Homo sapiens: one gene and its partners. The protein of the gene in region 2 purifies or fractionates together with the protein of the main gene of each other region. This does not show direct contact. Each region holds a gene or a part of one and is shown on either strand. Other genes may lie near its edges.

Region 1 (3,500 bases), on a different chromosome or scaffold from region 2:
ACCACACCAGGTGCGTGGCTCATGTCTGTAATCCCAGTACTTTGGGAGGCCGGGGCAGATGGATCACCTAGGGTCAGGAGTTCGAGAGCAGCCTGGCCAACAGGGTGAAACCTGTCTCTACTTAAAATACAAAAATTAGCAGGGTGTGGTGGTGCATGCCTGTAATCCCAGCTACTCAGGTGGCTGAGGCAGGAGAATCACTTGAACCTGGGAGACAGAGGCTGCAGTGAGCCAAGATCGCACCACTGCACTCCAGCCTGGGTGACAGGGCAAGACTCTCTCTTAAAAGATAAATAAATAATAAATAATAAAATAAAAATAAACTTATGTTTTACTATTTTAAATACTTTAATGTTAAATGAGTATACAGCTTTTTTCATCACTTAGTAATTATTTTCATCAATTCATATTTTTAGAAAAACATATATATCCCCATGTGTTTAATCTACTAGATATTAATTCATGTTTTTATGCCAATATATAAATGTTTATTTGTCTAAAAGGCACATGACAAAAACTGAATTTATTTTTCCAACTATATGTCAAAATACGTTAATATCATGTATTCAATCAAATTCTAACTTAAAATCTTTTAGTTCATAAATATTTAGTAAAAATGTCAAATATGGTCTAGGAGAATACACTAAAAATTAATGACAATGGTTGTTTTTGAGGAGGGATAAATGGTTGCTTCTGGGGAAAGTAATGGCACTGAGGAAAGCAAAAAAATGGGCTGAAATGTAACTTCCAAACTTGCAGTATTATATTTCTTTTGGAGAAATTTTAAATCATCAAGCAAAAACAAAATATTGACGTCTGTTAATTCTGGGCTGGAGGGTACACAAGTACTTATTATGTTATTTCCTGTATCTTAACTTCGCATGCTAGATAAAAGTACTGCTTCACCTCCAATGAAACCTAGAACCTTGAATATAAAGAAATTTTTATTCCTAAGAATTAGGAAATGATACTATACTTCATTTCATAGAGAAAACTGGAACCCAAGTTTTTTCCCCCAAGAAAGCTACCACATGATGAGAAATCCATATTTTCATATTGATTTATTTTTGAGACGGAGTCTCGCTTTGTTGCCCAGGCTGGAGTGCAGTGGTGCAATCTCGAATCACTGCAACCTCCACCTCCCAGGTTCAAGCTGATTCTCCTGCCTCAGCCTCCCGAGTAGCTGGGATTACAGGCACTTGCCACCGCACCCAGCTGATTTTTGTATTTTTAGTAGAGACGGGGTTTCAGCACGTTGGCCAGGCTGGTCTCAAACTCCTGAACTCAGGTGATCCACCCACCTCAGCCTCCCAAATTGCTGGGATTACAGGCGTGAGCCACCATGCCTGGCCTCATATTGATTTTATAACAAATAGCAGTTAAGTATAGCCTACTAATATTAAAGGGTAACTGTTCTGAAATAAGCACTTAAAATAGTTTAATCAACTTTACTTATGCCTGGCACATGGTATTAAAAGTTTAAGTAAGGATGCCTATTGATTGCATTTTTAACAAAGTACATACTGTCCACCTCATTTCTTTATTCCATTTCCAAAGCTCTGAGCAGAATACACATACCAACAGCATTATTCAGCATATATTCTTCTCTGAAGAAAACTGGAGCTATCTTCTGTTTTGCCTTTTCAGCTTCCGAGATCACTAGGAAGGAAAGATTACAAATAAAAAAAAAAAGATTTAATAGTCAACATTGTCAACTAGATCAAAAGTATTATGAAAATTAAATACTGGGGGAAGGGAGTACTCTAAAATGACTTGTTAAAAGTTTTGAAGTTGCCCCTGCCACAGACATTATATTATAGTCACAGATCCATAGTCCAATGTCAAAGCTTCAAGGCAAAAATTCCTATTCTTGTTTTCCATGCTTCTTACAAAATGTTAGATTAGAAATTATAGGCTGGGCATGGTGGCTCAAACCTGTAATCGCAGCACTTTGAGAAACCAGGTGGGAGGATTCCTTGAGGCCAGGAGTTTGAGACCAGCCTGGTGAAACTCTGTCTCAACAAAAAATGTTTAATTAGCTGGCTGCAGTGCCACATGCCTGTAGTTCCAGCTGCTCAGGAGGCTGAGCCGGGAGGATCATTTGAGCCCAGGATATTGAGGCTACAGTGAGCCATCATCACACCACTGTACTCTAGCCTGGAGAGAAGAGTGACACCCTGTCTCCTTAAAAAAAATAATAATATATTGCAACAAGCTACATTTTCTTTTGATTATTTTCTCTAGCACTTAAATTAACATTTGCTAGACATACATTTCCTTTGGTAATATGTCTTAATACAAAATGTATTATACGTGTGTGTATAGTGCTACAACGTATCCCATGTCCTTAAATATTTCTGCCACATTCATTTCCCCCATAAAACATTTATTGAGCACCTACTACATACCAAGTAATGTTTTAGGTGTTGCAGATAATAAAGACAGCAACACAAGATGGCTGTCCTGGAGTTTAGACTGATACTAAAACATATTCTTTGTCCTGTAAGGATTGGGGTGCTGTCAGAATGGGAGCAGGAGATGTGTAATTAATTAAAAGAAGGCTTCCTAGAAGAGGTAACCCTAAGCCAAGTTGGAAAAGGTAAATAGGAATTTCCTAGAAAATGACAGAAAGAAAAATTCTGACTAGGGGAAGCAGTACCCTACAAAGCCTCAAAGTCAAGAAAGAAGAGTAAAATCAAGAATCAAACAGCTTTAAAAGACTAAAGGGCAAAGGGAAAAGGTGAGGCTAGACAGGTAAATAATATACTGACATTCTTATTTATTAACATCGATAGAAATGTAAATTCTCAAAGACATTGCTACAGCATACCACTGCCTGGCTTAAAAAACAAATGCTCAGTAAATATCTACTGAATAGTGAACACTATCAAATGGTTTCACTTCTGTTGCAATCTTCTATTACCCAGAGTTCACATCTCCTACCATATTCCTCCTCCAGTCAATCTCAAGACTGCTATCAAAGTTTCCTCTTCTATATACTGCAACTCATATGCCTTTCTTGTCTTTAAGTCCTATGAGATTTATCTATTAAAACACAAACTAAACATTTCATAGATATGTTTCCTCTTTTATGGGAAAGTATTACATACAAAATGTTGTCTACCAATTCTTACACTAACTCTAGAATTCTCTTGTTTGTTTTTTGTTTGTTTTGAGACAGAATCTCGCTTTGTTGCCCAGGCTGGAGTACAGTGGCACAATCTTGGCTCACTGCAACCTCCACCTCCCAGGTTGAAGTGATTCTCCTGCCTCAGCCTCCCAAGTAGTTGGGATTACAGGCATGTGCCACCATGCCTGGCTAATTTTTGTATTTTTAGTAGAGAGGGGTTTCACTATATTGGCCAGGCCGGTCTCGAACTCCCAACCTCAGGTGATCTGCCGGCTCGGGCCTCCTAACTCTAGAATTCTGATATCTCTTCCTTCAAAATGTTCCATATGTCGACTTCTTTTCCTGGTTTTTTGGGGTGTTTGTTTTTGAA
Region 2 (3,500 bases):
CCCCGGAGGGGGAGGTTGCAGGGAGCTGAGATCCCGCCATTGCACTCCGGCCTGGATGACAAGAGTGAAATTCTGTCTCAAAAAAAATAATAAAGTACAGGTAAAAGGAACATTCCCCTCCATGAAACCTTCCCCCAGGCAGAAGCCAATCACACCCTCCCCCTAACTCCCACTGCTCCTAATCACAGCACTGCTCACACTTGCCTCACAGAGCTTGGCTGTGAGCTCAAGGTTCTTCCTTGCTCTCTCTTCTCCCCAAGTGTATCACTGTCTCTTAGTACAGCTTCTCTGGATGGTCACTTTGCAATCTATTAACATTTAAAACATTCCTACCCTTTGTTTTATCTATTTATTTTTTGAGACGGGGTCTCGCTCTGTCACGCCCAGGCTTGAGTGCAGTGGCGCGATCTCGGCTCAGTGCAACCTCTGCCTCCTGGGTTCAAGTGATTCTCCTGCCTCAGCCTCCCAAGTAGCTGGCATTACAGGCGCCTGCCACCACGCCCGGCTAATTTTCTGTATTTTTAGCAGAGATGGGGTTTCACCATGTTGGTCAGGCTGGTCTCGAACTCCTGATCCCAGGTAATCCGCCTGCCTCGGCCTCCCAAAGTGCTGGGATTACAGGCATGACATTCCTACCCTTTAACTAAGCAGCTCTGCTTACAGAAACTGAGCTTATATACATAAGTATGCAAAAGTATAGGTACAATGATATTCATTGCAGTGCTGTTTCTAGTAAAGAAAAAAAGAAACCAACTGTCCATCAGCACATGATTGGTTAATTACGGAACAGTGATAAAATAAGGTCGATTTTTATGGGAAAACATTGAAAAGCTATAATAGAATAATACAAAACAAGAAAACACTTATGGTAAGTAAACTTTTGCTTAAATTTGGAGCAACATATACCAAGCTGTTCACAATGGTTTTTTGTGGGGAATGAAATTATAACAGATTTTCATCCACAATTTATATGTTTGCAATGTCTGTCATTTTCACAACATATGCACACTTTTGGAAACAGGAAACAAAAACCTGTAGCATTATATCAATCAGCACATAACCTATACATTTCCTAGCACATGGTGTGGGTTTAATGATGTTTCAATTGAATTTAGTCAGCACATTTATAAGCTTAGTTAAGTTGGTTAATTTCAACTCAGAATGGCCAGTATACATGGCCTTTTACCTCCCATTCTGGACACATTTTATTCAGTCAGTCTTTCAACAAATAATTATTGCATATGTTCTATGTGCCAGATACTGTGCTAATCCCTGGATATTCTACTGCAAATGAGGCAGTTACAATTCTTGCCCTCTATAGAGCTGACAGTCCATGGGGGTGATAAAGGCAAGAAACAGGCAATTACAATCTAATGTGGCAAATGCCATGAAAGGGGAGCTAGATTTCACAACTGGAGCAACCTGAAGTAGGCTTTTTACAAGTTTAGAAGTTTAGGGCTAAGACCTAAAGCATGCCAGGTGTTGTGAAGAGGTAGGCAAAGTGGAGGAAAAGCATGGGGTTAGAGGGGTACAGAGCATATGCAAAGGCTGAAAAGCAAGAGAAAGTGGTTTTGGAAAATTATGGCCGGGGGCTGTGGTTCCACGCCTGTATTCCCAGCACTTTGGGAGGCCGAGGCAGGTGGATCATTTGAGATCAGGAGTTCAAGACCAGCTTGGCCAACATGGTGAGACCCTGTCTCTACTAAAAATACAAAAATTAGCCACGCTTGGTACCTGTAATCCCAGCTACTCAGGAGATTGAGGCAGGAGAATCACTTGAACCCAGGAGGCAGAGGTTGCAGTGTGCCGAGATCGCACCACTGCACTCCAGCCTGGGTGACAGAGTAAGACTGTCTCAAAAAAAAGAAAAAAGAAAGAAAAAAAAAAACAGTTCCCTGTCTTCAAGAACAGAGAGACTCCTACTCTTTCTCACCAGAGATGGGAGGGAAAATGAGGACACATGGGGATGCAGACGGCAGAAATGGGCTACATTCTGTGCTGAAACTGGCTCATGGAAGAAAGCAGCAAGTCTATTCCTTAGAAAGAAATCAATTTCTATAAACTACCTTTCCATATGTTTCACTTTGTTTCCATTTTCCTTAAAGAAAAATGTTCCCTTTGAAAAATTCTAGAATTGGCCAGTCACAGTGGCTCATGCCTGTAATCCTAGCACTTTGGGAGGCCAAGGCGGGTGGATGGCTTGCGGTCAGGAATTCAAAACCAGCCTGGCCAACGTGGTGAAACCCCATCTCTGCTAAAAATATTTAAAAAATTGGTGGCGGGCACCTGTAATCCCAGCTACTTGGTAGGCTGAGGTAGGAGAATCGCTTGAACCGGGGAGGCAGGGCTTGCAGTGAGCCGAGATGGCACCATTGCACTCCAGCCTGGGCAACAAGAGCAAAACTCTGTCTCAAAAAAAAAAAGAAAAAGAAAAATTCTAGAATTAACTCAAATGAACTACATGAAACAGTGGTTTGTCCTAACACAGTCAAGGTCAGCCAAATGGATGAGGGCCAAGCAGAGAAGCCTCACGTGAGGGAGGATCGAGATGGGAAAGCTTCTGTGACGAGAAGGGGGTCAAGCTTTGGTCTGTTCTTACCGAGCCTCTCTAAGTCCCTGCCCCAGGGAGGAGCCCCAGAGCACAATTAGGAAAAACTCTGCCTCTTCCCTAAACCTTGAACTCAATTGCTTAACTCAAAATCAAACAAGTAGGATCCCCAGCTGACTCTACTATTACCCAGGAAAGCAACCTGTTCCCACGTAGCACCCCCATTCTATTTGTTGGGAGGTCTAAAAAGCACCAGAAGTATGAGAAAGGATGTTAGGTGCAGAGGCTGGCATGGTGGGTAAGAGTTGACTGCCAAATGAGATCCTGAATGTGAAAATAGCAACAAAAAAAGTACAGCCCAATATTTAAGAAAGATCATAATGTCAGCTGGCACTCCCTAGGGCAAAGATAGATTTAAAAACCAGTTCATTCCAGGTGTGGTGGCTCATGCCTGTACTTTGGGAGGCAGAGGTGGGCAGATCACTTGAGGTCAGGAGTTCAAGACCAACCTGGCCAACATGGTGAAACCCTGTTCTCTACTAAAAAATACAAAAAAAAAACATTAGCCGGGCATGGTGGCTCATGCCTGTAGTCCCGGCTACTCAGGAAGATGAGGCAGGAGAATCACTTGAGTCTAGGAGGCAGAGGTTGCAGTGAGCCAAGATCATGCCAGTGCACTCCAGCCTAGGCAAGAGCAAGACTCAGTCTCAGAATAAAAACCAGTTCAGGAAAAGACAAGACCCTGAATTCACATAAATTCTTTTTTTTTCAAATGTTTGTATTTACCCTAGATAAATAGACACATACAATAGACGTTTCTAGTCAAAAGACAACATGTTAAGTTGCACTAGCATTCAAAACAGGATATGCAAAGAGTGAACCCTCATGTAAATTGTGTACTTTAGTTTATAATAACACATGAACATTGGCTCATCAGTTGTAACAAAATATG
Region 3 (3,969 bases), on a different chromosome or scaffold from region 2:
TTTTTTGTAGAGAGGGGGTCTCAATATGTTGCCCAGGCATTATGGATTTTATGCATTCGGGACCATCCCATGCTTAAAGCATGACAGAACCCGGCGGCATATTTTTCTCTGCCGCAGCTTTCAGTGCAGGGGCACCTCACAGGCAGGGCGGGGTCAAGGCTCTGTCCAGACAATGGCTGCAGAGTAAAAAGCACTTCCATTTATGGGGGTCAAGGGCGAGGGGAGGGAGAAAGGAGCAGGGAAAGAGGAGAAGTGGCCACATGTACTTTGATTTGTTTTTTGCTTTTTGTTACATGTACTTTTGAAGCAGTATTTAGAAGTAGCCTCTCCTACAGCCCCTGCTGTAGCTTGTCTCCTAGCTGTGAGGTGAGTTATTCAGTACCCTCTAACGTAAAAATGACCTTCAGACAGACAGACAGACACACACACACACACACACACACACACAGAGGAAAACAGCTCTGTCATCCACTTTTTCTTCCTTTCCCGTCCCCAGACCCTCGATTCTCTCTTTAAAATGACTGCTGTGAAGATAACGTAACACAGAGTAATACTAATGACAAATTATCAAAAAAGAAAAAAAAAATAAAAATCTTTATTAGTGTTTTTTAAAATGACGTAAAAGACTATGGGAAAAAATGCCAACAATAGTTATGTATAACTTTTTTGTTCATATTTCCAAAACGTTTATAACATACATAACTTTAAAAGAAAAATAATTTAAAAAATACATATCTGAAAATGAAACCCCGCTGTTTGCCAACGACCAGCTGGCTTAATCTGACTTCGCAGATGTAGCAGTGTTGGAAAACGTCGGTTCTTTTGCTGAGGGAAGGAAGAGATGGGAGGGGTAGAAAGGGCGGTGGTTATTCCCTTTAGTATTTCGATCCGGTCACACAACCTAAATCCAACATCTGCATCAAATGTCTCCTTTCCGAAATACTCTCCCTAAAATGACAGAGAACCTGGCCAGGCGGACAGAACGGCCCCTGCGCATTTGCAGGGGTCCTGGTGGGCTTGCCGGGCAGAGGGCGTGCGGGTCTCAGCAAGCTGCCGGGTCCGCCCAGGCCCCGCCCCATGCCCATTCAGGCCCCGCCCCCGACCCGCAGGCCCCGCCCCCGACCCGCCCCGTCCGCCTCCGTCACGTGATGGGGCGCCGGGTCCAGCCTGTTGCTGATGCTGCCGTGCGGTACTTGTCATGGAGCTGGCACTGCGGCGCTCTCCCGTCCCGCGGTGGTTGCTGCTGCTGCCGCTGCTGCTGGGCCTGAACGCAGGTAGGTTCAAGCAAGAGGCGCACCAGCTGCCATGCCTCTTTTTTCTCCAGGCGTGAGAGTTTGTTACTGGGTTTGTGCTTTTGAAAACATGTCTCTTTTCCCCGGTTCTTACCTTGTGTAATTATATTGCTTTTGAATCTCACTCTTTTTTTTTTTTTTCCTTAAAAAATTCAAAGTGCTTTTTTTGTCCTTTTCTGGCTCTGGGTGGTCTGAGTGCTTCCGTTCTCTCCTACGCCTAGATAGAAGCTGTGTGCAGAAATGTATGATTTGGGGAAACTGCTGGTCAATGAGGTTTCCCCGATTCAAAGGCCATGATTGGCTGCTAAATGAGGATATAAGGTCGTTTTATTTTAAGCTGAAATCTGCGGTCAAAAGTACCCTTACATCCTACCACGAATGGGACATTTCATTGAGATAAGGCCCTTTCTTTTCTTGATCAAAACAAACAAGATAACATCTTCCCCCACAGCGATCTTTTTTGGCAAAAAACAGATTTGTGTTTAATAGGATGACTTGCAAATTGATTTTCAGCAAAACCTCTCCTAGTCTGAAGCAAGCACTGAGAATTGGAACTGGCCACAAGCTTGCCTTGTGACCTTAGGCAAGTTGTTGAACAGTTTTGTTTTCCTTTTCTAAAATGGGGATCATCTGGCCCTTAGGCGAGTGTCTGGGAGATTTTGTAAAATAAGTAGCTCTGCCAATTTTACCAGTAGTCACTGCCAGGCAAGGGAGAAGTGCCTGGGGTTAGGTCAAAAGGTACCTGCGCCTTATCTGTCATTCTCAAGGGAGCGCAGCCTTATCTGTTATTGTCAAGGACAATATAATCGTGTGTTACTTGTATATAGAACCTTATAGCTAAGTCTGTAATGTTTTAGTCATCTGTTTTGCTCCTCAGGACACTTTCTGGTTTTCTTAATCTTCATTGTTGTTTTGTTTTGAGTCAGGGTCTCACTATGTTGCCCAGGCTGGTCTGGAACTGCCTGACTCAAGTGATCTTCCTACTTCAGCATCCCAAGTAGCCCGGACTGCAGACACAGGCCACCACCCTGGCTCTTTCTTATTTACAAGACGTTGTCTCATTGTCTTCCTCTCTACTCCTGTCTCTTTAGCTGTTGGGACCAGTGTTCTTTTACTGACCAATGGGGCTTGAAATTTGAGAAGGGAGGAAATAGAAGGCAGAAAACTCCAGTCACCGAGGGGATCCCCCCCATCATCTTTTAACAACAGCCCCTCTACTTTTTTTTTTCCCAGAGTGGTTTTGGAGGAAAAAAAAAAAGATGCTATAACTTGGAAATTGTTACGTTAGCAAAAAGTGACAAAGAAAATGTATTTAGCCTACTCTTTTCTAAAACATATTTTGTGGATGCTAGAAAAGTTAAGTAAGGAAAATTGGAGTTAGGGGATTATAGGATACGTATATTAAACACACATACACAGATATATATCGTTCAGTTTAAAAAAATCATCTACATGAGTTAGGAAAATTGCCCTTTTTCATATTTGTTGTAGCTCTTTCCTTGCTGTTTGCCTTTTTATTTTTGATTTACAGAAATTTTGTTGTATAGAAATATAACAAGTTTCTGTTCTCACCTCCATCATTGTTTCTTTTGTACAGTCTCTGGGGTTTGCTTAGATTCTTTCCTCATCCAGACATTAGAAATATATTTAACTATATTTTTGTATTTTTTTAATGTTTAAAGTTTAAAATTTAATTGCTTGATCCTCATGGAACTTATTTCGTTTATAGTGTTGAGAGGACCTAAATTTCTCTTTTTTTCTCCAAAAAAGGTAATTGTTGCTCCATTACTGTATATTGAATATTCTCAGCCCCACTAATTTGTGATGCCTCTTCACTCATGTTTTTTGTTTGTTTGGTTGGTTGGTTTTTTGTTTTTTTGAGATAGGATCTCCCTCTGTCACCTAGGCTGGAGTGCACTGGTGTGATCACAGCTCACTGCAGCCTCAACCTACTGGGCTCAAGCGATTCTCCTACCTCTGTCTCCTGAGTAGCTGGGACCACAGGCATATGCCACAATGCCCAGCTAATTTTTGCATTTTTTGTAGAGATGGGGTGTTGCTATGTTGCTTAGACTGGTTTTGAACTCCTATGCACAAGCTATCAGCCTGTCTTGGCCTTCCAAAGTGTTGGGATTACAGGAGTGAGCCACCAAGCCTGGTGTCTTACTCATGTATTAAATACGATATAAAAACCAGTATATTGCATTCTGAGATTTTTACTTTTTTACTCAAAATATAAATCTCTCTTGTTTTTACAGAATTATAAAAGTATTTCCTGTAATCCCAGCACTTTGGTAGGCCTAGGCGGGCAGATCACCTGAGGTCAGGAGTGCGAGACCAGCCTGACCAACATGGAGAAACCCCATCTCTACTAAAAATACAAAATTAGCCAGGCGTGGTGGTGCATGCCTGTAATCCTAGCTACTTGGAAGGCTGAGGCAGGAGAATCGCTTGAACCCGGAAGGCAGAGGTTGCGGTGAGCCGAGATTGCGCCATTGCATTCCAGCCTGGGCAACAAGAGCGAGACTTCGTATCAAAAAAAAAAAAAAAAAAAAAAAAGTGTTTCATATTTATTGTTAAAAATCCAAACATTACAGAAAAGTGTAGAGGAAAAAGTGAAAGCCCCTGGCCTCCTATGCCGCTGTTAAGTTTGGTTTCTTTTTTCATAGCCGAGGTT
Region 4 (3,500 bases), on a different chromosome or scaffold from region 2:
ATAGGAGACAAGATGAGTAAGACATGGTCCTGACACTCATGGAGTTTACAGTTAGCAGTGGGAAAAGTATTTAGATGGTACTTGAAATAGTCTTGAAATAAATTTAAGCTTAGATAATTTCACTTAAAAATAACATGATGAAAAGAGTAAGAATATGTGTGCACTCAGTAATGTAGTGTGTGATGGTGTTTATTGTATACCCACATGAAAGCGTTTGTAGCTTCTATTCTTCTTAATCTCAGATCCCTTTTAAAGTCCCCCAGTATACTCATAAATCATGTATATCGTGTGAAGATATAGGAATTCTTGACTGTGTAATGTTTTATTTAAATGTTAATTTATATGGATCAATGTAAGTGAAATTCTCAGAAAGTTGAGGACATTAAATCTTTAATTGAAAGGTAAGAGATATTTGCAAGATGGTTTGGCCACCAATGTATGCCTTGTGTTCTAAATTTCACTTTAGGAAGTCACTTACTGTAGTAATTTGGTGGCTTTGTCACCCTCCCCACCTCTTACACATTCATAGACTTCTCTACCTTGAATAGGTGTGGGGAGTTTATCCACCCCAAATGCCCAAGGCTTTTTTTTTTTTTTATTATAGTACTTCACACACCACGCAGTTATGGCCCACTTTTATATGAGTTCAGATAGATTGTGAATTATTTGAGGGCTGAGACACTGTCATTCATCACTTTATCCTTGACACCTGACATTATGGCTTGGTATGGGTGCTCCTCAAATGTTGATTGAATCAATGAACGAACTCACATTTCAGTACCAGATGATAACCTTGTCTGGCATCATACAGGTTTATTGTCAGGATGGAATGTGATCAGGAATTTCACTTCCTTGCCATTGAATACATTTCTTGGATTTGCCTGTAAGACGATAATAGTCTGTTAGTTCCAGCTTATCTAGAAGTGGGTCTGTATGAGCCCAGGCCTGGTGTGTAGATGGGGAGATCACACATGCATGAGCGCACACACATCTACACCTGTGCATTAGAGGTTTCCCAAGATTTAGTTAATTAGATGCTGCAGGCTCTCAGGGGCATTGCACAGGCTGAGTAACACTAAAAGGCTAGGGGATTGGGAGGTAAGCTGCTGTTTATCACACTTCTGATACACTTTTTATGAGCACCAAAGATCTGATGTTGTAAAATCTTGAGCTCCATAGAATTGATCCAGGAGATCTGGAGTTACTACGAGAAAGCAGAGATCTTCGTTGGTCTGTTATTGGAGCTGTGCTTTAGGGACACAGACAGACCTGCCTTTTCTCAGGGTGACTTCTGCTCCTGTGGAAGGAGAAGTGAATTGTCTGATCTTTGTTAAGTTAGTGAGTATAAGAGTACTTGTGCAGAACCAAACTTTACCTACAAAAAGTATTTTATGTTAACAAGTAGGGACTCCAGATATCCTGATCATAACATCTGATCTTATAATCAAATCTTCTACCTTCTGGTCTGAAAACATATGGTATGATATGATATGATATGATATGAGCATTTGTTGAAGATGCAATGGGAGGGACTGGTAAAGCCAATTCCACTAGTCAGAAATTGTAGCAGGGTAGGAAAGGGTGTAGCTTCTACACAAATACCATGGTTGTAGGTGTTCAGCTGGGAGAAGTGGAAGCCAAGGGCAAGAATGGGTCTCGAATGCAGCACTGGCAAGGGTGGGCTGTGCTGCACAGCTCAGTAGGGACAGGGTCTCAGGCCATAAATCCCTGCTGTGTCCACTGGCCTAGAGTCAGATGCTTAGCTGTGACTGATGTGCCAGAACTTGACCTGCAAAGCCCATGGCCCCTTGTTGAGCACAGTCTAGTATGAGAAAGCTGCCTGTTACGTAGCAGTTCTTTGTGTGTACCAAATATTATCCAGGTGGTAAGGGCTAAATCTGGGCCTGTCTTCTCCCTAGAGGTGTAAGGGATTCCATATACTTCCTCCAGAAGCAGATGTTGTTGCTCTTTCAGTTATGTAATGTGAGGTCAGGACTTAGGTGGGTATGAGGCAGTGATTTAAGGCAGAAAGCATGGAGTGGACTCTGGGCAAATATGTGACAGGTGTTCTTTTTTTGTTGTTCAATAGAGATTACTCCTTATGTTCTTTTCTTGGGCTAGCTTCATGGGCTACCACAATGATAGGTAGAAGGCCTGGCTACTTTGAAAGGGCCAGGGATGGGCCACAGAGAAGTCAGGTTGTTAGTATTAATGGACATTTAGAAGGTAGCCCAAAATTTTAAGTCATCTATGTTCCTCCTACTGTGTTTTGAAATGTGGGGAGCTGGTTGTAGTAACTATTTAGATTTCTCAATTTCTCTTTTAGGTAGGTTGCTGCAATAACCTAGGGTTTTTTTTTTTTTTTTTTCCTAACAAGCTTTTTCCTGTCTTGTCTACTTTCCTATTTGTTTTATTTTCCCTGTGTCTTTTATACATGAGTTCATATCAGAAGAGATTAAGTGATTTTGTATTATATTTTAGATAAGTTTTATCCTATGACTTAACATTTAATATGTTGTTCTTACTAGAGAATGAGTTGCTGAGTGATTTTTACTTGTATTCCTGACAAAGTTTGCCTCTTAGCTTACCTATTTAAAGGTATTAGGCTTTAAAAATTTGGGTCAAGTGGGGAAACGTGGCTGTTTAGTAAACATTGTTAATAGGGGTGACATTTTGTTTTCAGTCCCTGGATTTAATTTTAACCATTTATCTTTGAGCCCCAGTTTTTTTCTAGGAAATAAAAATGATAAACATTGCTTTTTTTTCCCTCAGTTCAGGAAAAAACTACAAGATCGTGGTTCTTGATAAAGAGAGGATCCTGGAGAATGGAACAATGTCTTGTCTGTTTTTCTTATTTCTGTGGTCACTGTGTCTTATTTAAAAGGTGGCATTTAGGTTTGCCGTGATCACAGGATAGCGCGTGCATTAAAGAATTTTTTTTTTGTGATCAAGTTGAATTATTGTTCAAAAGTTTAGAAAAATTATAATGTGTCTTTTTTTTTTTTTTTTTTTTTTTTTAACCTCTTAGTGCCGCAGAATGGAATTCGGCATTGTTCCTACACAGCTTCTCGGCAACATCTCTATGTTGATAAAAATACAAAGATTATTTGCCAGGGTTTCACTGGCAAACAGGTATGTATATCTAGATTTTTATTTTCAAATGTAGACTAGAGATATAACAAATTAACTATTTTTTTATTTTTAATATCTCAAAAATAACACATGATTGTTGCAGAAAAATATACTGTACAGCAATGGGGTTGTATCTCAGGAGGAGGTTAGTTGCTATTGTCAGCCTATAACATAAAAATTGTGTTTAAACTTACCTTGCAAAGGAGTATATTGTATGCTTACTAGGAGTATATTGTTTTGGAGGCCCATACACTTTCTTTCAGCAAATACAACACTAATGATTTTCCTCCAGTGTTGAAAGAGATCACCGTTTCTTTGACTAAGCACTAGGTCAACTAGATTCTTGTGTTTAGGTTTTGTACAAACAG

What was found.
Region 1: the proteins of ALDH7A1 (region 2) and HIBCH fractionate together in Homo sapiens (co-fractionation; one large-scale study listed by BioGRID). This does not show direct contact.
Region 3: the proteins of ALDH7A1 (region 2) and SCPEP1 fractionate together in Homo sapiens (co-fractionation; one large-scale study listed by BioGRID). This does not show direct contact.
Region 4: the proteins of ALDH7A1 (region 2) and SUCLG1 fractionate together in Homo sapiens (co-fractionation; one large-scale study listed by BioGRID). This does not show direct contact.

Annotation. Positions count from the first base shown.
Region 1 is NC_000002.12:190,288,827-190,292,326, forward strand, and holds part of HIBCH (3-hydroxyisobutyryl-CoA hydrolase, mitochondrial isoform 1 precursor), read right to left. Parts: intron 1,660-3,500; coding exon 1,579-1,659; intron 1-1,578. UniProt on the Homo sapiens protein: Hydrolyzes 3-hydroxyisobutyryl-CoA (HIBYL-CoA), a saline catabolite. Has high activity toward isobutyryl-CoA. Could be an isobutyryl-CoA dehydrogenase that functions in valine catabolism. Also hydrolyzes 3-hydroxypropanoyl-CoA.
Region 2 is NC_000005.10:126,585,220-126,588,719, forward strand, and holds part of ALDH7A1 (alpha-aminoadipic semialdehyde dehydrogenase isoform 1 precursor), read right to left. Parts: intron 1-3,500.
Region 3 is NC_000017.11:56,976,962-56,980,930, forward strand, and holds the start of SCPEP1 (retinoid-inducible serine carboxypeptidase precursor), read left to right. Parts: upstream 1-1,169; 5' UTR 1,170-1,198; coding exon 1,199-1,274; intron 1,275-3,969. UniProt on the Homo sapiens protein: May be involved in vascular wall and kidney homeostasis.
Region 4 is NC_000002.12:84,449,281-84,452,780, reverse strand, and holds part of SUCLG1 (succinate--CoA ligase [ADP/GDP-forming] subunit alpha, mitochondrial precursor), read left to right. Parts: intron 1-3,028; coding exon 3,029-3,132; intron 3,133-3,500. UniProt on the Homo sapiens protein: Succinyl-CoA synthetase functions in the citric acid cycle (TCA), coupling the hydrolysis of succinyl-CoA to the synthesis of either ATP or GTP and thus represents the only step of substrate-level phosphorylation in the TCA.